4 linked regions of the Homo sapiens genome follow. The protein of the gene in region 1 interacts with the protein of each later gene in a pairwise test. Each region holds a gene or a part of one and is shown in the gene's direction. Other genes may lie near its edges.

Region 1 (8,904 bases):
GGGGCAACGGTTTTTTAATAGATCACAGTAGATGTTTGCATCTCATTGTTTAATTGTGTAATTAACTGGAGTTGTAGTGAGATCCCACTGTTAATAAGGCTGGAGTAAGGAACCTAGGCTGGCTAGGTTTGTGGATTAGACCATTTTAAAGTCTGGGTAATTATGCCATAAATGGCAGAGTTACTTTCCAAACTTTGAGATGCTGTTGTAATAAATATGGTGGAGGAGGAGGAGGCTTGATGTTTGAAACTATGGATTCTTAACCCCAACCTCTTGTACAGTCAGCTGTGGTCACTTCTCATTCCAATTCCCATCCCCCTCCCTGGTTTCTTTCCTCCGGGCTCTTGTTTCTTTGGGGAAATTGAGTCGTCATGTTCTGGGATAGGCTGTCTGCAGATTCCTCAAGGCTCTGCAGCCTGTAATTCAGGCCTAGGAGTTGCTTTTATTAGTGATGGCTTTTCTCAGCTGTTGGGAAGTATGGTGGCAGGGCAAGGGTGCTCTTCTTGTCACTTGTCAAATGATATACTCAAACTCCTGGTGTTCAGAGCAGCATTGAGTGGTGGACAGAGCTCAAGCAATGGAGATAAAGTATGGTCCTTCCTTGGCATCTGCAGGGAATTGGAATAGGACTCCCTGAGAATAACAAAATCCAAGGGTGCGGCCAGGCCTGGTGGCTCACGCCTGTAATCCCAGCACTTTGGGAGGCCGAGGCGGGCGGATCATGAGGTCAGGAGATTGAGACCATCCTGGCTAACACGGTGAAACCCTGTCTCTACTAAAAATACAAAAAATTAGCCAGGCGTGGTGGCGGGTGCCCGTAGTCCCAGCTACTCGGGAGGCTGAGACAGGAGAATGGCCTGAACCCGGGAGGTGGAGCTTGCAGTGATCGTGCCACTGCACTCCAGCTTGGGCGAGATCGTGCCGAGATCGTGCCACTGCACTCCAGCTTGGGTGACAGAGCGAGACTCCGTCTCAAAAAAAAAAAAAAATCCAAGGGTGCTCAAGTCTCTTATATAAAATGGTGTCGTATTTACATATAACGTACACACAACTTCCCTGTATACTTTTGTTTTGTTTTGTTATGAGACAGGGTCTCCTCTATCACCCAGGCTAGAGTGCAGTGGCACAATCTTGGCTCACTGAAGCCTCAAATTCCTGGGCTCAAGCAGTCTTCCTGCCTCAGTGCTCTAAAGTATGAGGATTACAGGCATGATCCACTATGCCCAGCTTCTCCTGTATACTTTAAATCATCTCTAAGGGCCAGGTTTACGCCTGTTATCCCACCACTTTGGGAGGCAGAGGGAGGAGGATCGCTTGAGCCCAGGGGCTCAAGACCAGCCTTGGCAACACAATGAGACCTCCACCTGTACAAAAAAAAAAAAAAAATTGCCAGGCATGGTGGCACGTGCCTGTGGTCCCAGCTGCCCAGGAGACTGAGGTGGGAGTATTGCCTGAGCCCAGCAGGTTGAGGCTACAGTAAGCCATGATTGTGTCACTGCACTTCGGTCTGGGTGACAGAGTTCAAAAAAAAAAAAAAAAAAAAGGGCAGGATGCAGTGGCTCACGCCTGTAATCCCAGCACTTTGGGAGGCTGAGGTGGGCGGATCATGAGGTTAGGAGAGCGAGACCATCCTGGCTAACATGGTGAAACCCCATCTCTACTAAAAATACAAAAAATTAGCCAGGCGTGGTGGCAGGCGCCTGTAGTCCCAGCTACTTGGGAGGCTGAGGCAGGAGAATGGCGTGAACCCGGGAGGCAGAGCTTGCAGTGAGCCGAGATTGCACCACTGCACTCCAGCCTGGGTGTCAGAGCGAGACTCTGTCTCAAAAAAAACAAAAAAATCTGTAAATTACTTGTAATACCTATTACAATGGAAATGCTATGTAAATAACTGTTGTATTCTTTAATTTGTATTCTTTTTTATTGTTGTATTGTTTTTAATTTTTATCTTCCCCCAGTGTTTTTGATCCTCTGTTGAGGGATGTGGAGCCCAGGGATAAGGAGTATATCTGGCAAAGCAGCAACTCAGACTCATTGGCAGGCCCTGTGGCCCTGGATGAACCTCTTAGCTTCTCAGCCTCTTCTATAAAGGGACATCCTAGAGTTGTGCTGAGGATTAAGTATAATGAAGTAGGCCGGGTGCAGTGGCTCACATCTGTAATCCCAGCACTTTGGGAGGCCAAGGCAGGCGGATCACCTGAGGTCAGGAGTTCAAGACCAGCCTGGACAACATGGTGAAGCCCCGTCTCTACTAAGAATACAAAAATTAGCTGGGTGTGGTGGCACACACCTCTAATCCCATCTACTCAGGAGGCTGAGGCAGGAGAATCACTTGAACCCGGGAGGTGGAGGTTGCAGTGAGCCGAGATCGCGCCGCTGCACTCCAGCCTGGGCGACGGAACGAGACTCCGTCTCAAAAAAAAAAAATACACACACACACACACACACACAGCCCTTTCTTGGTCTTCCCTCTGTGGTGTGCTTCAAAGATTCCTTCAGCTTTACAGTCATTCCCAACAATAGACATTTTACCTACTGGGACCCTCCATTCCAGTCCAGCTGGAATATTTGCCATCTCCTAACACATATCTGGTTTTCTCCCACCTTTCTTTCCTTCGGGCCAGTCCCCGGTTGTACATTGCCTTCTCCTGTCTCTCTGTTGCCCAGCCCCACCGCCTCTTCTTCCCTGAAGCTGTCCTATCTCTCCTGCCAGAAGGTAGACACTGTAGAACTTCTGGACTGTCATTCTTGCGACACCATCCATATTTTTGCCCCTATTGGGTTTTGTTTTAATTTACTGAGGGGCTCTCCCATAGAGTTTAGTACAGTACTTATTTATAATGGGTTCTTATGTAGGTGGTTTTTTTGTTTGTTGTTTGTTTGTTTTTGTTTTTTTTGAAATGGAGTCTGCCTGTGTCTCCCAGGCTGGAGGCATTGGCACGATCTTGGTTCACTGCAACCTCTACCTCCCAGGTTCAAGTGATTCTCCTACCTCAGCCTCCTGAGTACCTGGGTTTACAGGTGTGTGCCACTGCACCCAGCTAATTTTTGTATTTTTAATAGAGACGGGGTTTCCCCATGTTGGCCAGGCTGGTCTCGAACTCCTGACCTCAGGTGATCTGCCCACTTCAGCCTCCCAAAGTGCTGGGATTACAGGCGTGAGCCACTGCACCCAGCCGATATAACAGGTCCTCATATAGGTTTATTTAAAAAGTGAATGAACCATTTGGGTGCAGGGCAGAATGATCAAGGGTGGAGTTAAATATCCCCTTGCATCCTAGGCATGGGGAGTCTTTTGCACCCTCCCCAGCTTCTTTGAGTTGGGGTTGCCTGTTCCTCCTTGCGCCTGCTCTACGGTGACCAAATTAAGGATCAGACCTTCCTTCCCTGATCCTGGGCTGGCTGGTTTTGGTGGTGGTTTTTCTCAGTTTTGATGTGGTGGGTCTTCTAGCTTTCTCCAAGTTCTGTGCGTGGGTAAGCACCGCTACGTATGAAGCTGACTGCAACTTAAAAACTGGTGCTAAAGTTGCTTCCTCAGAGAACTGGGTAGGGGCCTAGAGTATCTATAACTGTGCTACTTGAAGAAAGACCCAGGGCCACGTGGCATCAGCATTCCTGGGAGCATGAATCAGAATCGCAATCTGCAATTTATTTATTTATTCTTTTTGAGATGGAGTCTCACTCTGTCGCCCAGGCTGAAGTGCAGTGGCACGATCTTGGCTCACTGCAACCTCCACCTCCTGGGTTCAAGCGATTCTCCTGCCTCAGCCTCCTGAGCAGCTGGGATTACAGGCGCGCACCACCACGCCAGGCTAATTTTTTTGTATTTTTAGTAGAGACAGGGTTTCACCATGTTGGTCAGGCTGGTCTCGAACTCCTGACTTCATGATCCGCCCACCTCAGCCTCCCAAAGTGCTGGGATTACAGGCGTGAGCCACCGTGCCCTGCTGCAATCTGCATTTTAACAAGATGCTCAGGTGACTCTGTACCCCAGAGTTCCAGAAGTCCTGGCCTAGGCATCCTTCTTTATACAGAATCTCAAGGCACAGAGCTTTCCTGTTGCAACAGTATAAATTGGGAGCTGAGATGCTGCACAGTATTTGAAGATTTGCTTTAAATAACTCACTTTATGCGAACACTCCTTGGGGTGATGTGTACGCTTTAATATTACCTCCTTTGGGTTTAAATTGAATTAGATTTTGTCAAGAAATTTCTCCATTAAATGTGTGACTCTAGGAAGTCTGCAATATTCAGCCTGATGTTTAGCTCCTCTCAGAACCTCAGCTTTTCCTAGAGGAGAATACGGCTGATTTTATAACGAAAGCCAGTGGAGAAACTGGATTTGTTAGGCAGAAATTTGGTCGACAGACAACTTTTCAGGAATACATTTGGCTCATAAAGGGAGGCATGTCTCCGCTGGGCTTTGACAGCTGTAGTGTTGTTAGTCTTTGGAGCATTTCATATTCTGGAGTGAGGGGGTTTGTGTGAGTCTGTGTTTAAGCCAATGCAGCTTCTGTGAGACTCGTCTGGGATAGAGGTTGGCCGGTTCAGACTCTAGTGTTGGAGCCAAGAGCAGTTTGGGGCCAAGGATTCAGTCTTTGGTGTTTTCCTGATGGAAGAAAGGGTCATTAAACAAGGTTGGGTGTCCTTGGCCTGTGTCCCTCAACCTCCTGCTCTCCCTAACCTCAGTAGATGCCTCTCTGCTGCTGTGCCTGGGCACTACCCCTGGCCAGAGCCACGTGGTGGGGTTACAGGCTTGGGGCCACAGTTGCTGGCACTGGCCCTCACCTTGCCCTGGAGCTGCCGCCTGCCCTTCTCCTGATTCCTGCTCTGGCCCCCATCTGCCTGGTCCTTCTTCTGAGGGTGTGAAAGTCCTGCCATTGTAGCTGGTTAGAGTCCTATGTTGGAATTCTCTTGAGTTCACTGCTGAGCCCCCTGGCGCTTTGGTGGAGCTGGCCTGAGAGATGCCACAGCTAATCAGCGGTTTGAGGAAGCCCTCTGTAGTATGTCACTTTTTCCATCCTCTTTTCTTCTCTGCATTTAGGCCGTTTCCCTCCCAATAATGTTACACAGACAGCAGTGGGGCAGGGAGGAAGCTTGGTTCGAAGGGCTGACACACACACAGGCGCCTTTCCCCTCTCGCAACTTGGTTTTACATTGCTAAACTCTCATCTGCTGTGTGCATTAACTGGGGTATGTGTTGAGTGAACGCTCAGGTGACTAGAACGTCATCCACCAGGTGTCCTGCAGATCCCAAGCCCCTGTTAGAAGTGTAAGCCTTGATAAGCGGGATATGCACTCACAGGTTTAGGTGTGTATGTAATTTCTGAAGACAAAGTCCCGAGTCGCAGGGTAGGGATTGTAAGTTACATATTAGGAAGGTGTAGATATGTGTTTCTCAAATTAGAGTGGAGAGTATAGGGCAGGTCACCAAAGTATTGATGAAAAGTTTAGTTTCCTGGGCCTTACTGCAGACCTGCCCATCAGAATTATTGAGGGAGAGGCCAGAAAATGCATTTTATTTATTTGTTAGATTATGTTGCTGTTTTTGAATAGCTGATCCAGTTACATAGGCCAGATTTCAAAAGGAAACTGCATTTTAATTTTTATTTATTTATTTTTGAGACAGGGTCTCACTCTGTCACCCAGGTTGGAGTACAGTGGTGCAATCACAGCTCACTGCAGCCTTGTCCTGTTGGGCTCAAGTGATTCTCCCGCCTCCGCCTCCCAAGTAGCTGGGACCACAGGTGCATGCCACCATACCTGGCTAGTTTTTTAAATTTATTTTTTATTTTTAATAGAGGCGAGGTCTTGCTGTGTTGCCCAGGCTGGTGTTGAACTCCTGGGCTCAAGCTATCCTTCTGCCTCTGCTTGCCAAAGTGTTGGGATTACAGGCGTAAGCCATCACGCCCAGCCTGGAAACTGCATTTATAAAGAGCTTCCTGGAGATTCTTACCTACGCTTAAGTGTGAGAACCACTGGGTAGCCATAAGGAGAATTTATCAGTCTGAAGCGGAGGTGTGGTGTTGAGAAAAAGGGTGATATTAATAGTGGGGGGCTTAGGAGGGAGTTCATTCAAAGTGCTTCAGTGTCTTCTATGGGTGAAGCTGTCTGAGGAGGCATGGAATGCAGGAAGAAGACAAGATGGAGAAACGTGAATCAGATGAAGTATGAAAGACACCATTTGGTAAAGTGCTAAGTAGAATAGAAGAACATTCTAGAATGTGTGGGATGGTAAGTCTGAGATGTAGGAGCAAATAGGGGGTGGGAGGGCTTCAGAGAGGAGAGAAGACCCTACATTGCTGAATAGATGTAGTCAGTGACGGCCTCAGAATGATGAATAGATGTAGTCAGTGACGGCCTCAGAATGATGTAAAGTCATCGGACCAGGATTCTGAAAACCTGGGTGGTACTGTTCTAATATCACATGGCAGCCACAAGTGATGAAGTAATAGAAGAGACATCTATAGACCTGTGACACCAGTTTTTCTGTATTCTGGTCCTGGCTCAATTGCTGCATACCCACATGACCCTGAGCTGGTTAGTTAACCTTTCTGAGCCTCAGTTTCCTCGTGAGCACAATGCAAGTGATGCTGTTGCCTGCCTTGCTGGCCCCTGTGAAGTTGTGATATAATGCTCTTCAACTGTGGAAATGGGTGACCCCTGGGAAGCAGCCCCTCTGGCTAGCCCTGATGGTTCTTCCCAGAGACTGTCCTGGCCAGCCGTTTCCTTTTGAGGGGTCAGCCTTTCTTTTTTGAGATGGAGTTTCTCTCTGTCGCCCAGGCTGGAGTGCAGTAGTGCGATCTCCACCTCCCGGGTTCGCGCCATTCTCCTCCCTCAGCCTCCCGAGTAGCTGGGATTATAGGTGCCCGCCACCATGCCCGGCTAATTTTTGTATTTTCAGTAGAGACGGAGTTTCACCATATTGGTCAGGCTGGTCTTGAACTTCTGACCTCGTGATCCACCTGCCTCAGCCTCCCAAAGTGCTGGGATTACAGGCATAAGCCACTGTGCCTGGCCAGAGGTGTCAGCCTTTATTTCCAGCCTTCGGACCCTAGAATGGTTTGCCAAAGGCTCAACAAAGTCCCTCTTGACTAGCAGCCTTAGAAATGGTTTTCTCATTTGGGCTGGGTGCGGTGGCTCACGCCTGTAATCCCAGCACTTTGGGAGGCTGAGGCATGTGGATCACCTGAGGTCGGGAGTTCGAGACCAGCCTGACCAAAATGCAGAAACCCCATCTCTAGTAAAAATATAAAATTAGCCGGGTGTGGTGGCGCATGCCCGTAATCCCAGCTACTCAGGAGGCTGAGGCAGGAGAATCGCTTGAACCCGGGAGGCCGAGGTTGTGGTGAGCTGAGATTGCGCCACTGCACTCCAGCCTGGGCAACAAGAGCGAAACTCTGTCTCAAAAAAAAAAAAAAAAAAAAACATGGCTTCCTCATTCAAAAGCACAAGTTTTCTAAATGGGTCTCAGTATTCCAACAGCAGCCCAGAAATGTGGGAGCCACACACAGCCACATTTTCCTGGTGGGAATTCTCCCTCTCTCTTTGTCTCAATAGCAGATTCTCCCAAGGGGTGGGTTGGTGCTGGTTCAGGGCCACTGTCTCTCCTGGCATGCTGAGGTTCTCAGGGAGTGGGTAGTGAACTGTGCTTCAGGCAGCCTAGGCAGACTTTTATGATACCCAAGGGAGGGGTTTTTATAATCACTGGATGACTGTGGGGGTTTCCCCAGTCAGCGACTCTGTTAATTTGTGGGAACTTCTGTCTGTGCTGTGGGGAGGTTCCTGAGATTCTGTGTGGCCAAGGGCAGTGGGCTCTCCCTGGGGGTGGTTATGGGGGCCCGCATGGGCACTATCATGTACAACCTCCCCTCCAGGAGACACTCTGGCTTTTTTTTTTTTTTGTCTCCTCCTTGGGGTGGTGGCGGGGCAATGAGGGGAACGCTTGTCTGCTTTGGGACTGCTGAGGTGTCCCAGCAGCTAGCTCGTATGGTACCTTTGTGCACATTACAAATAAGTACTCCCAGTCGTGGGCGCAGTGGCTTACGCCTGTAATCCCAGCACTTGGGAGGCAGAGGCAAGTGGATCACTTGAGCTCAGGAGTTTGAGACCAGCCTAGGCAACAAGATGAAACCCTGTCTTTACAAAAAATACAAAAAAACTAGCTGGGTGTGGTGGTGCACGCCTGTAGTCTCAGCTACTCAAAGGCTGAGGCAGGAGGATTGCTTGAGCCTGGGAGGTCAGAGCTGAAGTGGGTGAGCTGTGATGTGATTGCACCACTGCACTCCAGCCTGGGCACCTGAGCGAGACCCTATCTCAAAAAAACAAAAAAACAACAACAAAAAAACCCTTCCTCCAGGTAGATGCAGTCCTGCACCAGGGTTCAGGCAGTATTTCAGTGTTGACTCTTTGGTCAGACATCTTGAGCAGTGCACAACCTGTACAGTCAAAGGTGGCTGTTCCATTGGCATGAAGGCCTTGCAGCTGTGGCTCTTTGTTTCCCAGCTGATGGGCCAAGATGATTTTGATGCCTCTGTTCTAAAGTCATGTTTCAAGTGAGCCCTCTTCACTACTGTTCTGCCTCCTATGGTGGTGGGATGGGGCAATCCTGCCTGTAACATACAATAGGAGAAGCCGGTGAGGGTGGAGCCCCATTACTGTACCCACCCCACATTGTATATCTGTGGCTGCTGAAGTCTTGACCTATTTCTGGGCCCCTTCCCTGTGAGAGGATTTTGCTGTCTTGCAGATACAGGCTCCTAGCCTTATGTGATAATTGGTGTGGAAGGCTGGCAGAATCCTTGGGAAGAGTGGGCCGCAGAGTTTATTTCACATTTTATTTAGGAGCTTTCAGTTTTCCTTTCTCTTGTTTCCTCTCTCCCTGGGGACACTAGGGTCTCCAGG
Region 2 (8,904 bases), on another chromosome or scaffold:
CTAAAAGTGTATAGTCAAGTTGGTCAGAAAACATTGTTTTTATGTTCTTATTAGAAAGGAACATGGTAAATCACCTTGTATTTGGGTTTTCTTTCTAGTTAGGCTTATTTGGTATTAAAGTGTTGTGGGGTTTTTTTTGAGATGGTGTCTCGCTGTGTTGCCCAGGCTGGTCTCCAATTTCTGGCCTCAAGTGATCCTCCTGCCCCAGCCTACGAAGTAGTCGTGATTACAGACATGCTTCACTACTCCCAGCATTAAATTATATTTATTGTACTTCATTTAAGGTAAAGAATATCTAATACTATAATACAATATTTTGAGAGTTCTGCCTAAAAATGTTTTGGCTTAAACAAAAAAGTTTTGGTTATCCTGAAAGAACTTAATTTTGTGAGACAACTCATTTCTCTAATAATTCTCAACAAAGAACATGTTAGTATAAATAGCTTTAAAAGTGGTATAATTTGCTTACTATTTAGAAAAACACTTCTACCCAATAAATGAAGAAGAAAGAAAAATCCCTGCTTTACAGTTTTTAGTCTTATCTAGATCCAATTATTAGTTTTTAAGTTAATGTATTTTTGGTGACTTATCTTTTATTAATTAAAAACATTTGCAGCTGTCCCTTTCCCCCCAACACATCGCTTGACATCTGAAGAAGTATTTGATTTGGATGGGATACCCAGGGTTGATGTTCTGAAGAACCACTTGGTGAAAGAAGGTCGAGTAGATGAAGAAATTGCGCTTAGAATTATCAATGAGGGTGCTGCCATCCTTCGGAGAGAGAAAACCATGATAGAAGTAGAAGCTCCAATCACAGGTAAGCTTATTCATGTTTTGGGTATTATTTTTATTATGTCATTATTTAGTTGCCTGGATTTACAACTTACTGTTTTCAATGATACTGTATGCTAAATCAATATTACTTGGACATTATCTTGAATTTCAAATTATTTTCCATACTTAAAAATGATTGCCTGTTTTCAGTGAATAGACATGATTCTAAATAATCTGAGTGTAGAAGTTAGTCTAATATGCTTTTGTGAAGGTTTCATCAATTGTGTTGACCATACTTCAATTTGATCAATACTTACTTTGCTTTCAATTGTTAGGGTCAAATACCTTGATGTCATATCAGATACCAAAAGTGACCATTTAGAGAGCAACAGAAAGTATTGAGTTAGAATGGATATTTTAACTGCCACCATTGTAATTTTGTCATCTTGAAACTTAAAACACATCCTTGGAGTCCTAGAGACGATCTTTATAAATGTAGATTTCAGTTTGTCACTGACCACAAATTTCGTTATTTCTGTTACATCTTTTTCTAGATCTTGAGCACATGAACACTTGGTTACACATCATCCTAATCATGACTGTTCATAGACTACTTCCTTCTCAGACATTTCTTGATAGCATTTGTACTATGTCTTATGTAAAATACGTTTTAACTTAAGTAAAATTTGTTGTTTTAGAGATTTTTTTCCCTTATCTAATAATCTTCTTGTTTCAGTGTGTGGTGACATCCATGGCCAATTTTTTGATCTGATGAAACTTTTTGAAGTAGGAGGATCACCTGCTAATACACGATACCTTTTTCTTGGCGATTATGTGGACAGAGGTTATTTTAGTATAGAGGTAATAATCATAAACTGTCATTTGATTTGCTGTTAAGTGTTAACACAGATGCTTTCACTTAATCCTAGTTTTCACAAGTACCTGTGTTAGGTTTTTTTAATAACTCTGCATATTCTGAAGTTTTTATGAAAAGCTACTATTTATTCCTGTTCTGTCTTTCAAACAATTCAAATAAATTTCTTTGTATAACTCTGTTTATATAATTATAATTGCCATTTTTTTCCCAGTGGAATTTATGAGCTGACTGAGGGGTCTTTATTGCCCTGTTAACTAGTGGCCTTAAAAATTTAGTGCTATTTATCTCTCTTGCCCCTAAAGGCATTAAACCATGTGAAAAAAGATTACTTGAATTCTGTCTGATTAAATAAAGTATATTGTGATTTTTTTATTGCTTGAGCCCTAGTGCTTCTGTTTCTCCTTGTGTAGCTATTAAGACTCAAGTATATCCTATGGAATCTTTGTGTATTTGGAAAGTATTAATTTGTTTTTAAAAACTTGAGGCATTAAAATGACCTTTTGATTATCACTTAACAGTAGATGGTTCCTTTTCTTCCTTTTTCTCTTTTCTTTTTCTTTTTTTTTGAGACAGGGTCTTACTCTGTGGCCCATGCTGGAGTACAGTGGCACCAGCATGGCTCAATGTAGCCTTGACCTCTTGAGCTTAAGGGATCCTTCTGTCCCAGTCTCTCAAATAGCTGGGACCACAGGTACACACCACCATGCCTAGACTAATTTTTAATTTTTTTGTAGCAATGGAGTTTCCTATGTTGCCCAGGCTGGTCTTGAACTCCTGGGCTCAAGTGATCCTCCTGCCTTGGACTCCCAAAGTGTTGAGATTACAGATGTGAGCCACATTGCCCTGCCATCTTTTTAAATTATATAAACAAAATGCAGCAAATGTAGAACAATATGTATTTTCCAATATATACATTTTTTCTTTTTTTAATGAAAAGGGGATCATATTATAATATTGTCTGTAACTTGCTTTTTCATACATGCCTACACCAAATATCCTTCCAAGTCAGTAAATATAAACTCGTAGCATCATTTTAATATCTACATTGTTTTCCATCTAATAAACAAACCATAATTAATTAATTCCTTGTGTTAGACACTGAAGATGTTCCCAGTTTTTTTCTTTACAAATGATGCTTTAATGAGTCATATTATTCATACATCTTTACATACTTGCCTGATTATTTTTGTAGGACAAATTCCTAGAGGTAGAATTGTGGGGTCAAATTTCTACCAATAGATACCTGTGTTGCACATTTAATATGTTCTAAGCATGTTCTAGGCACTGAAGACATATCGATTAATCCTCACAATAATATTAATGAGGTAAGTACTGTTGTTTTATTCATTTTATAGATGAGGAACCTGAGGCTTAGAGAGGTTAAGTAACTTGCCCAAGGTATTATTAGTAAACAGCATAGCCAGGCAATGTGACTCCCAGCATATGCTTTTAACCACCTTCCCTAGTAGATACTGAAACCTTACCTGGTGAATTTATGTTGGTTACTGTTGTTTATATCTCCTTCTCCAGTGTTTCCAATATACCTTTTTTTCTGAGGTGTGCTAGGATTCTCAGAGTGGAAGGAAGTTCTAGACTCTGTCTGTCCTGCTTCCCTTAGGAATTTTGCTATTTTGAGTTCTTCTTCCTCCTGCTGATAGTTGATTATTAGCCTCGTCAACTTTTCCCAAATTGTCACAGGGCTTCAGGCAAATCAGAAAATGGCCCATTTTAACAAAAAAATTTCAGGCATTTGACCAAAACAATAAAATAAACAGTTTTATGAAGCTTATTTGGTAACTAAGTTGGTGTGCATGTCCTTGTGTAAGATTGTTTTGCAGCTGACTCTTTTTTTTTTTTTTTTTAATTGAGATGGACTCTCACTCTGTCGCCCAGGCTGGAGTGTAGTGGCGTGATCTCGGCTCACTGCAACCTCTGCCTCCCAGGTTCAAGAGATTCTCCTGCCTCAGCCTCCCAAGTAGTTGGGATTACAGGTGCCCACCACCACTCCCGGCTAGTTTTTGTATTTTTAATAGAGATGGAGTTTCGCCATGTTGGTCAAGCTGATCTCGAACTCCTGGCCTCAGGTGATCTGCCTGCCTCGGCCTCCCGAAGTGCTGGGATTACAGGCGTGAGCCACTGCGCCTGGATGTAGCTGACTCCTTTAATACATTTTGTTGTTATAAAAGGAAAATAACAAAGAATCAAAATAAGCATCGAGAACAGATTATTTCCCTGATTTTATTACTTTTTTCCCTTTTGAATAAAATGAAGGATATGAATAGTTACATGTTTAGATATACCTTAATTTATTAACAATAAAGTTTTGTTGGGTGTGGTGGCTCACACCTGTAATCGCAGCACAGGTTGGCCAAGTCAGGCAGATTGCTTGAACCTGGGAGTTCGAGACCAGCCAGGGAAACATGGTGAAACCCTGTCTCCACAAAAAAAAAAAAAAAAACTTAGCTGGGCCTGGTGGCATGTGCCTGTAGTCCCAGCTGCTCAAGAGACTGAGGTAGGAGGATTTCTTGAGCCCAGAAGGTCGAGGCTGCAGTGAGCAGTAATTGTGCCATTGCACTCCAACCTGGGTGACAGTGAGACCTTGTCTCTAAAAATAAAAAAGTTTGTTTTTTCTTTTTGCATATGATTATATAAACCATGCTTATTTCCATATCAAATATTTCTTCCTTTTTTAAGCAAATAAGTAAAATGTGAGTCTCTTTCTTATGTTAAATCTATTTAGAGAATAGCATCTGCTATAATGTTTAATAATATTTTTATTTGAAAAATTACATTTGCATTGAATTAGTTCAGATAATAAGCACTTACCATATGTAAGGCAATATTCATAATCAATGAAACAAACATAAAACATGGACCTTCCCTTCATGGGCAGCATGGCATAATGCTTAAGATCAGAGGATCAGAATCCTATCTCCATCACTTAGAAGTTTTGTGGTTTTGGACAAGTTACTTGAGATCTTTGCTTCAGTTTCTCATTTGTAAAATAAAGATGATATTACATACTTCATAGTGTTGTTTGAGGAATAAATTAGGGGAATTATATAGTGCTTCACATATTGTAAGTACTTAATAAATGTTAGCTGCTGTTATTTTGACAGTATTATTTACTAATACGCATCTGTAGACCAGTGTGCTAATTGTTTTTATATTGGGCAGTCTGTAAATCCAAAGTAATTAAATAGATTGTTTGACTCATTCATTCAACAAATATTTATTGCTCTTCTCCTATTTGCTAGGTACTCTTCTGGGAGTGGAGAATCAAAAGTGAATAAGATGACAAAATCTGTGATTTTGTGGTGCTTATATTTTAGTAAGGGACAAAGAAAGATAATAGAGGATGGTAAGGGTAGTAGAGGAAAAGGAGCAAAGATCAAGCAGCTTCATTAAACAAAAGTACAAGATAAATTCACTAGAAAAATTTTCTTTTGCAGTGTGTCTTATATTTATGGGTTCTGAAGATTCTATACCCAAGCACATTATTTCTTCTGAGAGGCAACCATGAATGCAGACACCTTACTGAATATTTTACCTTTAAGCAGGAATGTGAGTACTGCCAGAAGAAATGTTTTCACTTCCTCAGTATTCTTTTGGACTTAAGTGGGTAGTAAGAGTTTTGAAGACTTTACAGTGCAACATGTAAGGACAGATTTCATGTCCACACATAAAGCTTTGAGGAAAGTTGTCGAGCACTCTCTGGTGTTTAATGGTATTAAGAAGTTTTTGGTGGGGCATGGTGGTTCACGCCTGTAATCCCAGCACTTTGGGAGGCCCAGGCAGGGGGATTGCCTGAGCTCAGGAGTTGGAGACCAGCCTGGCCAACATGGTGAAACCCCATCTCCACCAAAAATACAAAAAAAAAAAATTAGCTGGGTGTGGCGGCACACTCTTGTAGTCCCAGCTGCTCAGGAGGCTGAGGTGGGAGGATCGCTTGAGCCTGGGAATCGGAGGTCATAGTGAGCTGAGATCATGCCACTGCACGGACAATTGCCTGGGCAATAGAGTCAGACCCTGTCTCAAAAAAAAAAATTTTTTTTCATTTCAGAATTTCTTATTATGTTTAACTTTTACAAACATACTTAGAGTTTTATATATAAGTTTTAATGTTACAATTAATTTTTCTAAGCCAGGCACGGTAGCTCACGCTTGTAATCCCAGCACTTTGGGAGGCCGAGGCGGGTGGATCACCTGAGGTCAGGAGTTCAAGACCAGCCTGGCCAACACGGCAAAACCCCATCTCCTAAAAATACAAAAATTAGCCAGGCGTGGTGACATGTGCCTGTAATCCCAGGTACTCAGGAGGCTGAGGCAGGAGAATCACTTGAACCTGGGAGGCGGAGGTTGCAGTGAGCCGAGATCGCGCCATTGTACTCCAGCCTGGGCAACAAGAGCGAAACTCTGTCTCAGGAAAAAAAAATGTATATATTTTTTCTAACAGGAAAAAATAAAAACCAAAAGAAAAAAATGTTATTTTGCATTGGAGATTTTTGTCCTTCAATCTTGAGGCATTCCTGTGAGGAATCCTAACAAATTGTTTATCCTGTTACCATTGCAGATCATTTCAATCATGCTATTAATGATTGAAATTCTTCTTAAAATTTTTTTGTTTTTTTAAATATCATTGTTTTAAGACTAGTCAGGTACAGTTGGTGAAATTCTTAACCTGCAATGTTTATCCCTTTTCTCTCTCAAATTATTATAGCAATGGTAATCTAATACCTGTAAGTAACCATATGTTACAGAACAAGATTAGGCCTTTTTCACACCTCAAACCTTTGTGCTTTTTTATTATTTTTGTTATTTTTATTTTTTTTTTGAGACAGTCTCGCTCTGTCGCCCTGGCTGGAGTGCAGTGGTACAATCTCGGCTCACAGCAACCTCCTCCCGGGTTCAAGTATTCTCCTGCCTTAGCCTCCCAAGTAGCTGAAATTACAGGCATGCGCCACCACGTCCTGCTAATTTTTGTATTTTTGGTAGAGGCGGTGTTTCACCATGTTGGCCAGGCTGGTCTCTTAACTCCTGACCTCAAGTAATCCACCTGCCTCGTCCTCCCAAAGTGCTGGGATTACAGGTGTGAACCACCGCATCTGGCCTGCCTTTGTGCTTTTTAAGTTAATATTTATGACTGTATTAAGTAGAGTTAAATTCTAAAAGCAGAAATAATTTCAACGTTTTGAGACTCAAAACATGATCCAATAAAGGTCATACTAAGTAGAGACTTGCAGCAACAGGAGAAAAATACAGTGATGGGTAGTGGCAGAAGTGGCATACTCTTATAACTTCAAGGATCAGGCAGTTAACCTAAATGAGTAAGATAAGACCTGGAAAGTGCATGCTTGACCTAAAAGCAGTCAAATTAGAATTTTTATTAAACCACAGTGCTAGAAAACAGAGTCGTTAGCAGACTGCCAGTGTAGAATCTCTGGTTGCTGGATATATATATAGTTTTTTTAATATTTGAATATTACAGTATTAAAACAGGAAATAGGAACTAAGTTCTTTTTCTTTGCCTAGATAAATAACAAACCACCTACCAAAATCTCATCAAAACCAAAATAGGAATTTAAAGTTGTAAAGGAGCAAATGAAAGTGCATGATATCTCTCTAAAAGTAAATGATAGTTTGATTTGGTAGAGTTTTGTCTTTCTTGTGTTTCTATATTGGCTTCCTGCTTCACTGCCCATTTTAAAGTATTCATTGTAGGCAAGAGGAACCCCTCAGCTTTTCTGACATGAGCATGCTATTATCTTTTATTTTTCAGAAAAAATGGATGAACCTTGAATTTTGTTGTGATGATGTAGTCATCTTGCCTGTAATAAGAATAAAGTAGTCATTGACTCTTAGAATAAAATAAAGCAAGTATTAAAATGATTTTAACCTCAAGTACAGTTCTAATTTTGCCTTATTTGGCCGATAAAGGTGAAGGGTTGAGCTGTTTTTAAGAGATTTCTTTCTTTTTTTTTTTTTTTTGAGACAGAGTCTTGCTCTGTCGCCCAGGCTGGAGTGCAAGTGGCACGATCTCGGCCCACTGCAGCCTCCACCTCCTGGGTTCAAGTGATTCTTGTTCCTCACCCATTGAGTCTCTGGGATTACAGGTGCACACCAGCATGCCTGGCTAATTTTTGTATTTTTAGTAGAGACAGTGTTCTGCCATGTTGGCCAGACTGGTCTCAAACTCCTGGCCTCAAGCGATCTGCCTGCTTTGGCCTGTCAAAGTGCTGGGATTACAGGCGTGAGCCACCGTGCCTGGCCTGTTTTTAGAGATTTGACTGACTTATTTTTAACAATACGTGATGACTTTTCTGTCATCCAAAATAATTTTAGAGAGCAAATATTTTGCTTCATAAGACATAACATCATCGAGAATAATTTTAGAGAGAGCAAATATTTTGTCTTCATAAGACAGATAACTTTGCATATTTTTGTTGATTCTTATAGGGGAAGATGCTTTCCTTAAAAAAATTGTGTGCAGTAAGATTTATTCTCTGTGGTATTTACTTCTGTGACTTTTGACACTGCATAGAGTTGCCCACTACCACTATCATGATACAGAAAAGTTTTATCATGCCATAAGTTCTCTCTTGCTACCTTTTTATAGTCACCCCTTCACTCACTCTGAAGCCCTGGCCACCACTTTGCTGTTTACTGTCTATAATTTTCTTGCCATCTGTCTGTCTGTCTGTCTGGGCTATTACTACAGTTGAAACTGTAACTATCTCAATTTCATTATAAATAGCTATAAGATATAAAGGAGGGGAGAGAACAAGAAATAAAAATCTAATATATATGTTTTTAAAATGGTCACACCACCACCAGTAATGTAATTTTCAATTAGTTTTTTGTTTTTCTAGGTAAAATTAAGTATTCGGAAAGAGTCTATGAAGCTTGTATGGAAGCTTTTGATAGTTTGCCTCTTGCTGCACTTTTAAACCAACAGTTTCTTTGTGTTCATGGTGGACTTTCACCAGAAATACACACACTGGATGATATTAGGAGAGTAAGTATATATTTTACTTCCGAGATTGATTTCTATTTATAGTACATTGTTGAGTAGAGCAGAAGTTTCAAACTTCACTTCACTGCCAAGATTAGGTAATAGTAAAAATTAGTATACTGATATCTTAAGGAAATAACTTCTGTTTATTCACAATAATATAGTATGAACTGTATTCAAAGTTGGTATCGTTTTCCTATGCACATTTTATCCTTACTTTTTGATGAGTTACTTCTGTTCT
Region 3 (5,831 bases), on another chromosome or scaffold:
CCTTCTTGGGCCTGTGTCCGCCGTTCTCTCCTTGTGCCCTTCAGTTCACTTTTACACGGTAGCCTTGAAGTGAAGGCTTTAGATGTGGGACCCCCCTAATGTAATGGATTTCTCAATACTGTATGAATAATGAAACTTACTATCATAAACCATGTTTCATGTGGCCTGTTAGGGCCTGTCACTTTGGGAGCCGGAAGGAGGTGCTAGTCATTTTATTTTTACGTGAAATAGATGACCTATTTAATGCCATTTGTGTTTCATGCCATTTTATCCAAAGCTTTTTCTCTGTGTCCACTCTCCAAACAGCATTCTAGAGCAGTCAAGGAGACAGCTAATCTCTCTAGGGACTATTTGGTGGTTTAAAAAAAGGGTCAGACTTTTAAACACTCTGACCATAGAAATGTTTTTCAAAATGGCAACAATGGATAAACCAAGGATTTTGTGTTTAACAATCCATTTCCAGTGTCTTCGCCACATAAAATAGCCATTTTCTTTAAAATAGTTTTGGACTAACGAAGCTGAAATCTATTCTCATTCTTGTTTGTCAAGAAAGGAAAATCTGTTATTCAAGGTAAATTATTTCTACAAGGGCAACAGGTATGGTCCTCCGATATTTACATTAAGAAGAGTTAAATTTATTTTAACGTAGACACTAAAAGTATGTGCAATATACAATTAAAGTAGGAATTTGTTACTGATTGAGAATTGTTACTGGTGAATTGGTTTTCAGGTTTTGAGCATACATATACAATGTGTTTCAAATGCTGCTTGTAAAATTAAACCATCATCTAGAATAGAGTTAATTTATTATAATCAAGCTACAAATAGGTTTTCTTAAACCAGAGATGCACTGCCCTTGTCTAAAGTTCTTATTGCACTGGTTTATATGTGTATGTGTGTTTTATTGTGTGTTTTTTTAATTTGTAAGTATTCTAAGAGTTTCCTAATACTAAGGTTAAAATTTTCATGTTGACCTGAGCCTTTTGCAAATTTGCTTTGGCTCTATTGATTTGTCCATTATGTGTTAGGCAAATATAACTTAAGTGGAGGGGGAAGTTTATGAATATAATATAGCTCTGTGTTTTAAACCTCAGAAACAGATTTGAGTGTTTCAGTATTATAGAAACAGTGATGACTATTCATGCTCTGCTAGTCTATGCCTGCAACTCCAAATGTTTGTGGTTCAGTATTTCCCACCTACATTTCTGTTTGGTGACATTGCTCATTTTAACAAATATGACCGAGTCTAGTTTTTCTTTAAAAGGATAGTTTATGAGTAATCTTTAAAACCATTTCCATACCATCTGTATATAACCATTTCGGTAGAGAACACACTACACTGAACCCTGCTTTAGAGCTGTGTGTTGAGCTAAAAATATAATTTTTTAAAAATTGACTAGCAAAATCTATGGCCACACTGAGAAGCCTTTGAAAATGGCAAATACTTTTCATCACCAATTGCCCAATTCATCTTTCTTCTGCTTCCTCAGCCTTGTAGCAAAGGCTACACAGCAGCCCACAGTCCACAGTCTTTTTGGGAAAATTGGCCTGCCACCTTCTTTAAGCTCAGTTTATTTTTGACTTACTTTCTTTGCTGTAGTTATGAACCTTGGGGCATTAAAATCCCATGGCAAGGAGCATAAGAGATGTTCTCGTAGCTCTGCGTTGTGTGAAATGTCCATCTTAGTTTTGTTAAAAAAAAAAAAAAAAAAAGGAAACAGCCTCACTTTTTTGTGCTCCCTCAGAATTGCTTGCTATGTCTGTTAATACAGCTGAGCTTTTTGTTTTCTTCTCTTTTTGTCTCAAGATTGTATATGAAGGAGGCTTTTCTTCTCAGCTAACAGGCATATAAGGAAAACCATCTAGAGAGTTTTCTTTAGAAGTGACTCCCATTAGCCTGGTGTGGTGGTGTGTGCCTATAGTCCCAGCCACTAGGAAAGCTGAGGCAGAAGGATCCCTTGAGCCTAGGAGGTTGAGGCTGCAGTGAGCTATGATCGCATCAGTCCACTCCAGCCTGAGCAACAGAGCGAGACCCTGTGTCTAAGTAAAGAAAAAGCCAGAAGTGACTCCCACTGCTTCTGTTGATCGGCCATAGGGCTTCCATGGGTGGAAACTTGTGAGGGAGTTTGTATTAGGTCTGGTCATGGAGGGATGATGTACCATCAAGGTAGACCCATCTTCCTGATGCACATTTGCTGTGCGAGCCAGAGTACAGTCATAACACGGTATTCGCATTTCGTTTTCTCTGTCTCACTGAGACAACAATCTATACTGTTTTGGCAAGTTTGCATTTTAGTATTAATTTATAATTAGGGATTGTTCAAACTTCAGATCTGTTTACAGGTTGTAAAAATAAACTTCGGTATCAGTGCATCTACAGAAGTGTTATTTGGTAATCCAAATATTAGAGTTTTCCCAAATCCAAAAACGGTCAGAAATAAGTCCATTATCAATATAATTTGAAGAAGATTTTTAGTAGTACTGTGAAGTTCGTGCTTACCTGGATGAGAAGAATAAATGACACGGATACACTCCTGAGAAGACACTCGTTAAACATTGCATCGGAGAGCTGCCTTTGATAAATGTGCTGTTAAACACTTGAATGAAGAGAATGGTGGCAGAATGAGTGAGCAAGCAGATTGCCCCAGAGGGGCCGGTAATAATCACGTGAGGGATAATCAGATTCCTGCGTATTCAGCATCTTCTCTATTCATGTGGAGTGAAAGCTGGTTTTTATACAGGAGATACGTAAAGTAGGCCCCACAAATAATATTTTTAAAATACAAAGGATCACCACAATCCTCTATTGAACATATAAGGATCCTCAGATTTAAATAAGTACTTTTTTTTTTTTTAATCAGAAGAACATTGTTGTTTGATTATATGTTTTTAAAAACCTGAAGCTTTTTTGGTGGCAGGACCTTTCAATAAATATTTATTTGGTCAAAATTTTTTATTTTGATTTTATTAAATGGGAAGAAAGCAAGCAGAAATAGTAAAATTCAGTAGGTTTAAAACAATCTATAAATGTATTTTATTTCCAAGAAAACTTAGGGTCTCAAAGCAAGATTTTAAAGTGATTTTTGAGAAGACTTGGGGGGGACAATAATAGACATTCATGTCAGATCCCATATGGGGGATTTTTAAACATTTCTTTGAACTTTGAGGCCTGATTTAGGGGTGGGATTTTATTGCTTTTTGTTTTAAAGGATGAAATTTTGTGGGGTTTTAGTCTTTGATTCAGTCAGTATTTGGTTTATGTTAAATAAAAAATCAGTATCATGGAAAAGATATGACCATAATTTAGTCTCCTCAAGTGAAAAACAGGAGTAATGTTTCGTTGCACTTTGAAAGATCTGCTTCAAGGCATAACTCGTGTAGTTGTCTGGTTTCAGGGATAGCTGTTTGAATTGTCATTCTAAAGTAGGTCATCAGGTTCACTTATTATCCGACCTTAATCTGGGATAAAGGTTTTGGTATTTGCCCACTTCTAGATAGAATGAATGAAAACAACACAAGCGTTTTATGAGCACTCTTTATCAGAAAGGTATTTCCTGGACCAGAAATGGGCAATAGTTACAATAGTTGATCCTCTGTTCTGGAAGCTTTGAAATTTATCAGAGAATGAAGTCATTCAGTACATCTGATAAAGTTTTGTTGTTGTTGTTGTTGTTGTTGTTTTAATTGGGCAACCCTCAGAACTGAAGAGGTTCAGAGAACTTTCCAGGTTTATACTATACCTCAAGACCACATAGATTAGCTACTGCTTATTCTTTCACATGGGCTAGGCCTGTTCTCCTCCTCCAGACCTAGTATTCTAAGTTATTACCACATAGTATTTTTATGTTACCCATCATCTTTAAAAACATTATAGGCTGGGCATGGTGGCTTACGCCTGTAATCCCAGCACTTTGGGAGGCCAAGGCGGGCGGATCATGAGGTCAGGAGATCGAGACCATCCTGGCTAACACGGTGAAAACCCATGTCTACTAAAAATACAAAAAATTAGCCAGGTGTGGTGGCGGGCGCCTGTAGTCCCAGCTACTCAGGAGGCTGAGGCAGGAGAATGGTGTGAACCCGGGAGGCAGAGCTTGCAGTGAGCCGAGATCGCACCACTGCACTCCAGCCTGGGCGAAAGGGCAAGACTCCATCTCAAAAAAAAAAAAAAAAAAAGACTCATTTATCCATTTACATTTATTCTCAGATGATAAAATATATACTGATACTATAACTTTCTTATGGTATCAGTTTTCTTTATTTTCTTGAATAAAATTACTTCTACCTTCATTTGGTCTTTATAATCCACTGTCCACAGCATCTTCCTTTAAACCAATAGTCCCAGAAGAGACCCTCTGAAATTCTAGGACTGGATATTAAAATGCCTGAACCTGTTATCTAAATCCTTTTTAAGAAACTTAATGTTCCAGCTCTTGAACTACACTGTGGAACAGTAATTTGTGCCCAATTTAGTGGAAGATAATGAGGCTCACTGTAAACACTACATTGTCCTGCAAAGTAATTCTGATGAGAGTTTACTGACTTCTAGAGCCATTCTCTTTAACCGTCTGCAGGTCTAAGGATTAACTATATTTGTGATTTGTAATAAAACTGAGTTGTACAACACTGCCTGTGTTTGTCTGGCCAAGACATTTGCTTCACTTTTAAAATGCACGTTATCTTTGGAGAGGTGAATTATTCTACAAAATGCACCCTAAATCTCATTGTTTAAAACCTTACTGATCTAATACCATCTACACAAAAAAATGTTGTAGTTGCAGAACTTAGTTTATAAAAACAAAGAATGTGTATTTCTTCAATAGCCGGGTATTTGGATTGTTCTCTTGATAATATTTGAATGTGACTCTTGGATTTAAGTGCACTATTATTCATGGCTTATACAATAAAATTGCACTGTATGGCAAATATGTCTATAATGTATGCTTTGCTGAAACCTCAAGAGTGCTGTAAGGTACAGGTTTCCATATTGTGAACCTGTGTACGCACACACACATATACATACAGTCTTAGGGAAAAAAAAAAGCAGAACTTTTGTAAGTCTGTGTAACATTTTAATATTGTTTGTAATATTCACTAGGTGATAATTTCCCCTGTACCCTATAACTGTAATCATTCACCTTGGGTTGGCCGGTTTGTCAAGCTTGGTTTACTGAATCAAGAAAGAGTCTTGTCGAATGTGGTACTGTTCTTAGTGTGTAATATTTGCGTATGGTGTTCCTCTGCCTCAGAGGACAGTTGCACAGATGGCTAGTGTTAAATTTCTATAGACGATGGTAATAAAATCTGAATATATTTAAGTGCTAATAAATTAAATCTGTGGGCTTATTTGAATTTTTTTTTCAAATATTGGTGAAGGTTTGGATGGTGTTTCAATTAAATCTATATATTTTTTACCTTACATTTTGAAAAAATTGAGATCTGCAAAAAGGCTGCAAAATAGTACACTGATCTCCCTAGATTGTTCCTATATTGAATGATTGGTAAAATTTTCCATATTTGCTTTAATACCACGTGTGTGTGTGTGTGTGTGTGTGTGTGTTTGTTACACTGTTATTTTGCTGAAACATCCGAGTTAGCTGCAGACATTGTGACCCTGTCTTCTAAATACTTCACAGGAATCTCCCAAGAATTAGGAATATGTATTCTACATATTATTGATTTAGTATGTATTAATATAAACACATGACTCATTGAGGGTAAAAGGAAAGCTCTTTCTTAGAGTAGAATGCCAGCTATTAAATGTAGAAAGAAAATGGAATTAAAAAGCCACTATTTGGCATATTATTACAGTAATCATTGACTTAGGCAATGCC
Region 4 (6,666 bases), on another chromosome or scaffold:
AACTCCCTTTTTTCTCTTGCCTTTTTTATGCATAAATGGAGGTCAATTTGATTGTCCTGACCTACTGTATAAGTAAATTTCAAATGTCATTACTTTCTCTTTGTTATTATAATGTGTGATTAAATGCTTTTTTAAATTGCTAAGGGAAAATAACAAAGTGTTAGTAATCATTGCTTTCTGTAGAAGAAAAAGGTTTAAATTTAAAATGTGTATTTAGAGCATGGAGAGAATCATTTAATGAAGCCTATTTTTCTGTTCCAGCAACTGTTTTTATGAAAGAAAAACTTGAAATGCTACTTAACTTACTATTTCAAAGGGAAGTATATTTCTTTTTAAAGAATCTTTTTAAGATTAAAAATGAATACCTTAAATCTCCCAAAAGAGATAACCAGTATCTGAAGGTTTATACAATATTTACACAGTGGCTACAATATTCACAAAATTCTTATGTTCTCTTATGAAAAATATACACTTTTCATTTTGTCTTCTTCTTTTTTTTTCTTTTTTTAGATGGAGTTTGGCTCTTGTCACCCAGGCTGGAGTGCAATGGCGCAATCTCAGCTCACTGCAACCTCTGCCTCCCGGGTTCAAGCGATTCTCCTGCCCCAGCCTCCCATATAGCTGGGATTATAGGTGCCTGCCACCATGCCCAGCTAATTTTTGTGTTTTTAGTAGAGATGGAGTCTCACCACATAGGCCAGGCAGTCTCGAACTCCTGACCTCAGGTGATCCACCCACCTTGGCCTCTCTAAATACTGGGATTACAGGCGTGAGCCACTGCATCCGACCTCATTTTGTTTTTTTCAATTCTGTTATCGGCATTTCTTTCTTTTTTTTTTTAATGTATAGGTGTTCTGTCATACGTTATTGTGAGCTTTGGTTCTTTGAACAGGTGATCTATTCTCTTACATTTTGTGCTTTTTATCTTGGGTGCCTAGCATTCTGTTTTTTTGATCCTATGTCATAATTTTTTGAGAAAATGTTTGATACTGCAAGATCATTGTTTAGTGGTCTGTTTTCTACTTCAGTATTCTACCAGAGAACATATTTTTTAGGGGAGAAGGGTTATGGTTTTGTAAGAAACTTTAAATATACTTTTAGGAGACCCACAATCATTTACAGTTTTATCTTTGGCCTTTGAATAGGTTCTTTTTTCTTTAATGTCTCCGTATTTGAAGAACTGAGCTCTGTACATTATAAATTTGCTTAAAGATTTTGATTTTTTCTTCAGAATATGGTATACTTAAAATTAATTAATTAAGACAGTTTCTTTTTTCTTTTCTTTTTTTTTTTTTTCGAGACAGGGTCTTGCTCTGTCACCTAGGCTAGAGTGGAGTGGCATGAACACAACGCACTGCAGCCTCTACCTCCTGGGCTCAAGCAGTCCTCCCACCTCAGTCTCCTGAGTAGCTGAGACTACAGCTGTGCGCCACCACATCTGGCTAATTTTATTTTTATTTTTGTAGAGACAGGAGTCTTGCCATGTTGCCCAGGCTGATCTCAAACTCCTAGGCTTAAGTGATCCTCCCGCCTTAGCCTCCCAAGTGCTAGGATTACAGGCATCAGCCACCACGCCTGGCCTGATAGTTTCCACATAGTTTTTCATGACTTAGAAGATATCATTGCCATGTAGGTTTTATTTTTAAAAGTCTTGAGCTCTTCTTAAATATACATTATAAAGAGCAAGCATAGATGGAAAGTGCATATTGAACACATCTGTGCATTTGAGAAGGCAGGCTTTCATATGCTGTCATGAGCAAAAAGTAGAAGTGATAAATGCAAGTTATGTTTTGAGATTGCTTACACCGTGACAAGATGCCATCACTTGTGATGTTATGAACTGTTATAAACTCTTTGCTTCTGCTAAGAAGCAGTCTAAATATAATCAACGTACAGTGAGCTCTTTGAAGCCAACCAAGGCAGGCAGAACCCTCTTAAATATGAGACTGATGTATAGGTTCTCTCTATGGTCAGTATCACTGGATAAGCCTTCTCCTTTCATAAGAAAGGATGTATTTAAATACATTTTATTTTGCTAAATCCTGTTTAGTTTTCAGCCATTAAATGTCACATGAAGCCTTGATAGAATTTGTTCATAATGGCTCATGTATTATTATTATTTTTGAGATGGAGTTTTGCTCTTAATGATATTATTATTATTTGAGACAGAGTTTTGCTCTTATTGCCCAGGCTGGAGTGCAGTGGCGTGATCTTGGCTCACTGCAACCTCTGCCTCCCAGCTTCAAGCGATTCTCCTGTATCAGCCTCCCAAGTAGCTGGGATTATAGGCATGTGCCACCATGCCCAGCAAATTTTGTATTTTTTTTTGGTAGAGACAGGGTTCAACCATGTTGGTCAGGCTGGTCTCGAACTCCTGACCGCAAGTGATCCACACGCCTTGGTCTCCCAAAGTGCTGGGATTACGGTGTTAGCCACTACACCTGGCCTGGATTGTGTATTATTTATGTCTGTAGTTTATATGCTTAGTTGTTGCCTATAGTGATCTGGGTAAGATTCAAACATTTATCTTTTGTATCTTCTACAGAAGTGCTTTGAGCATCAAATTTGTTTTAACGTTAAATTGTAGTTTGCTGTATTAAAATAGATCAATGAATATAATTCAGTCTTTTAGGGGCACCAAGTAAAGCATAAGGTCATATATACTATACAATATGTTTATTGCACTTCCCATGGGGATAAATCACTCTGTCATTCCTAGTTATTTTAAAAAAAGAACTTTATGATTACGGTCCTCTTTCTCACATACTGCAAACTTAAAAGATACATACACCAAATATAGGTCTGTTTTAAAGGAGAGGAAAAATAGTTCAAGGAGTTTTTGCCTCTTTGTTTTTCAATAGATTATTCTGCCATTTTTTAAAGGAAAGGGAAAATGAAAACAGCATGTCTTTTTAAACATTGAAAAGAAATATGGAGGCTTTAAACCGCAAACTGAAAAAGCTGAGTAGAACAAAGGCAGTGGAGCATACAATACAATTCTATTTATTTGAGGTTAATTGAAGTTAATAATTTTTAAATTTTTTTCTAATTTTATGCCTTAAAATAGGTTTCTGATTACATAAAATTTGAATAGAACACTCAAGAAGTATGTAGATTTTTGAAAAACCCAAACAATATTCTTCTTAGATTTTTGGAGGCAAAATTTAGACCAGTATACTAATTCAAAAGACAAATATTTCAGAGGAAGTGGAGTACAGTATTTAACATTTTGTTTGCAATTTTACTTTTTCTTCCCTTCTTCCCTATTGAACCTTGATTAAAATGTATGAATACAATACTTGGATTTTTTTTTTTCAGCTTAGACTCTGATAATTTCAGTGGTAGTGGGGAAACCTGAATTTGTCAGCATGATTATTTGTAACTCAGATTGTTCAAATGTATATAGAAGGTCCCCTTCAAGTGTTGTTTCTCCAAGTAGTCATAAATGTAGCAAGTATAAATCAGAATATCATCTTATAATCTTACAGAGTTAACCTAATGAGTCAATACCTTTATAAGCAAAACCATGATAAATTTAAAAACAACAGAAATGTGGCATGATTACTTATTTATTTGTTCCAGGTGACTCTAAATAGTTGATTTTTCTGCCTGAAGGATCCTGAACATATTTAGTTACCCTGTAGTTATTTAGGAATTTAAACCAGAAGACTTTGAAGTTGTATATTCTTGCAATGCATAAAATGACATTATAATCAACAAACTTATGGTTTGTTTCAATTGATGCACACAAAAAATAACTTATAGTTAGACTTTTCTATTTCAAGTAAAGCTTTGAGTTACTTGTTTTTATACATATTCATCATGTACCCTTTATTGTTTCTAGGTGTTGATATACTTTAATAAAAATGATATGTTTAATATTTTCCCATTAATATATTTCTTTGAAGCTATTTGTTTTAAAAGATGTAACACTTATTTGCTGTCAAATTCTGAATTAAAAAATCTGTTGGTGGCCAGGCGCAGTGGCTCATGCCTGTAATCCCAACATTTTGGGAGGCCAAGGAGATGGATCACTTGAGGCCAGGAGTTCAAGACCAGCCTGGCCAACATGGCAAAACCCCATCACTAAAAATACAAAAATTACCCGGGCATGGTGGTGGGTGCCTGTAATCCCAGCTTCTTAGGAGGCTGAGGTAGGAGAATTGCTTGACCCTGGGAGGTGGAGGTGGCAGTGAGCCGAGATAGCACCACTGCACTTCTAGTTGACAGAGTGAGACTCTGACTCAAAAAAAAAAAAAAAATGTTGGGAAGACACACAATTTTATATTTTAAAATGTAAGTTAGTTTAGATCTATGAAGATTTGTTGTTCCCGTCTCTTCAAGAAATGAAAAGCCGGCTGGGTGCGGTGGCCTGTAATCTCAGCATTTTGGGAGGCCGAGGCAAGAGGATCACGAGGTCAGGACTTCAAGAGCAGCCTGGCCAATACGGTGAAACCCTGTCTCTACTAAAAATACAAAAAAAATTAGCTGGGCGTGGTGGCACACGCCTGTAGTCCCAGCTGCTTGGGAGGCTGAGGCAGGAGAATCGCTTGAACCTGGGAGGCAGAGGTTGCAGTGAACTGAGATTGCGCCACTGCACTCCAGCCTGGGTGACAGAGCGAGACTCTGTCTCAAAACACAAAAGAGAAAAGCTAAAGTAAGAGCATATAATTGGCATCACTGTGGACAGATTGTCAATGAAAATTCAATAGAATACCTTATTTAAGGTAAGAGAAGATGCTGAGTTACTGTCAGATTAAATTACCCTACATTCTAACTATGACTGCATTGAGATTATTTGTACATAGTGTGGCACCCACCTCCCACGCTCATGCAAACAGGCTGTTATATCTTTGTAATAGTTATTTTAAAATGTACAATAAATTATTGTTGACTGTAGTCACCCTGTTGTGCTATCAAATACTAGATCTTATTCTATCTAGCTATATTTTAATACCCATTAGCCATCACACTTCTTCCCCTCATGCCCCCACTGTTCTTTCCAGCTTCTGGTAACCATCATTCTACTGTCTATCTCCATGTGTTGAACTGTTTTAATTTTTGGCTCCCACAAAGGAGTGAGAACATTTGAAGTTTGTCTATCTGTGCCAGTCTTATTTGACTTAACATAATGTCCTCCAGTTCTATCCATGTTTTTCCAAAGGACGGGATCTTATTCTTTTTTATGGTTGAATAGTACTCCATTATATATATGTACTACATGTTATTTATCCATTCATCTGTTGATGGACACTTAGGTTGCTTCTAAATCTTGGCTATTGTGAATAGTGCCGCAATAAACATGGGAGTGCAGATATCTCTTTGATATATGAATTTCCTTTCTTTTGGGTATTTATCAATGTTCATCAGGGATGTAGGCCAATAGTTTTCTTTTTTAATGTGTCCTTTTGATTATTATTATACTTTTAGTTCTGGGATACATGTGCAGAACTTGGGGGTTTGTTACATAGGTACACATGTGCCATGGTGGTTTGCTGCACCCTTCAACCTGTCATCTAGGTTTTAAGCCCCGCATGCGTTAGGTATTTCTCCTAATGCTATCCCTCCCCTTACCCCCCACCCCTCGACAGGCTCCAGTGTGTGATAATCCCCTCCCTGTGTCCATGTGTTCAGCTCCTACTTATGAGTGAGAACATTTGGTGTTTGGTTTTCTGTCTCTGTGTTAGTTTGCTGAGAATGATGGTTTCTAGCTTCATCCATGTCCCTGCAAAGGACATGAACTCATTCTTTTTTATGGCTGCTAGTATTCCATGGTATATATATGCCACATTTTCTTTATCCAGTCTATCATTGATGGGCATTTGGGTTGGTTCCAAGTCTGCTATTGTAAATAGTGCTGCAATAAACATACATGTGTATGTGTCTTTATAGTAGAATGATTTATAATCCTTTGGGTATATACCCAGTAATGTGACTGCTGGGTCAAATGGTATTTCTGGTTCTAGATCCTTGAGGAATCGCCCCACTGTCTTCCACAATGGTGGAACTAATTTATACTCCCACCAACAGTGTAAATGTGTTCCTATTTCTCCACATCCTCTGCAGCATCTGTTGTTTCCTGACTTTTTAATGATTGCCATTCTAACTGGTGTGAGATGGTATCTCATCGTGGTTTTGATTTGCATTTCTCTAAAGACCAGTGATGACAAGCTTTTTTTTCATGTTTGTTGGCCGCATAAATGTCTTCTTTTGAGAGGTGTCTGTTCATATCCCTTCACCCACTTTTTGATGAAGGTTTTTTTTTGTTTTGTATATTTGTTTAAGTTCCTTGTAGATTCTGGTTATTAGGCCTTTGTCAGATGGCTAGATTGCAAAAATTTTCTCCCATTCTGTAGGTTGCCCATTCACTCTCATGGTAGTTTCTTTTGCTGTGCAGAAGCTCTTTAGTTTAATTAGATCCCATTTGTCAATTTTGGCTTTTGTTGCAATTGCTTTTGGTGTTTAGTAATGAAGTCTTTGCCCATGCTTATGTCCTGAATGGTATTGCCTAGGTTTTCTTCTAGGGGTTTTATGGTTTTAGGTCTTACACTTAAGTCTTTAATCCATTTTGAGTTAATTTTTGTATAAGGTGTAAGGAAGCGAACCAGTTTCAGTTTTCTGCATATGGCTAGCTAGTTTTCCCAGCACCATTTATTAAATAGGGAA

The links.
Region 2: the proteins of PTK7 (region 1) and PPP3CB interact in a two-hybrid assay, tested with the Homo sapiens proteins (one study listed by BioGRID and IntAct).
Region 3: the proteins of PTK7 (region 1) and MTMR9 interact in a two-hybrid assay, tested with the Homo sapiens proteins (one study listed by BioGRID and IntAct).
Region 4: the proteins of PTK7 (region 1) and DUSP19 interact in a two-hybrid assay, tested with the Homo sapiens proteins (one study listed by BioGRID and IntAct).

Annotation. Positions count from the first base shown.
Region 1 is NC_000006.12:43,078,527-43,087,430, forward strand, and holds part of PTK7 (inactive tyrosine-protein kinase 7 isoform a precursor), read left to right. Parts: intron 1-8,904. UniProt on the Homo sapiens protein: Inactive tyrosine kinase involved in Wnt signaling pathway. Component of both the non-canonical (also known as the Wnt/planar cell polarity signaling) and the canonical Wnt signaling pathway.
Region 2 is NC_000010.11:73,471,230-73,480,133, reverse strand, and holds part of PPP3CB (serine/threonine-protein phosphatase 2B catalytic subunit beta isoform), read left to right. Parts: intron 1-165; exon of another isoform or gene 166-284; intron 285-616; coding exon 617-817; intron 818-1,510; coding exon 1,511-1,635; intron 1,636-2,922; coding exon of another isoform or gene 2,923-2,976; intron 2,977-5,103; coding exon 5,104-5,215; intron 5,216-8,520; coding exon 8,521-8,666; intron 8,667-8,904. UniProt on the Homo sapiens protein: Calcium-dependent, calmodulin-stimulated protein phosphatase which plays an essential role in the transduction of intracellular Ca(2+)-mediated signals.
Region 3 is NC_000008.11:11,322,816-11,328,646, forward strand, and holds the end of MTMR9 (myotubularin-related protein 9), read left to right. Parts: 3' UTR 1-5,331; downstream 5,332-5,831. UniProt on the Homo sapiens protein: Acts as an adapter for myotubularin-related phosphatases. Increases lipid phosphatase MTMR6 catalytic activity, specifically towards phosphatidylinositol 3,5-bisphosphate and MTMR6 binding affinity for phosphorylated phosphatidylinositols.
Region 4 is NC_000002.12:183,095,747-183,102,412, forward strand, and holds the end of DUSP19 (dual specificity protein phosphatase 19), read left to right. Parts: 3' UTR 1-4,262; downstream 4,263-6,666.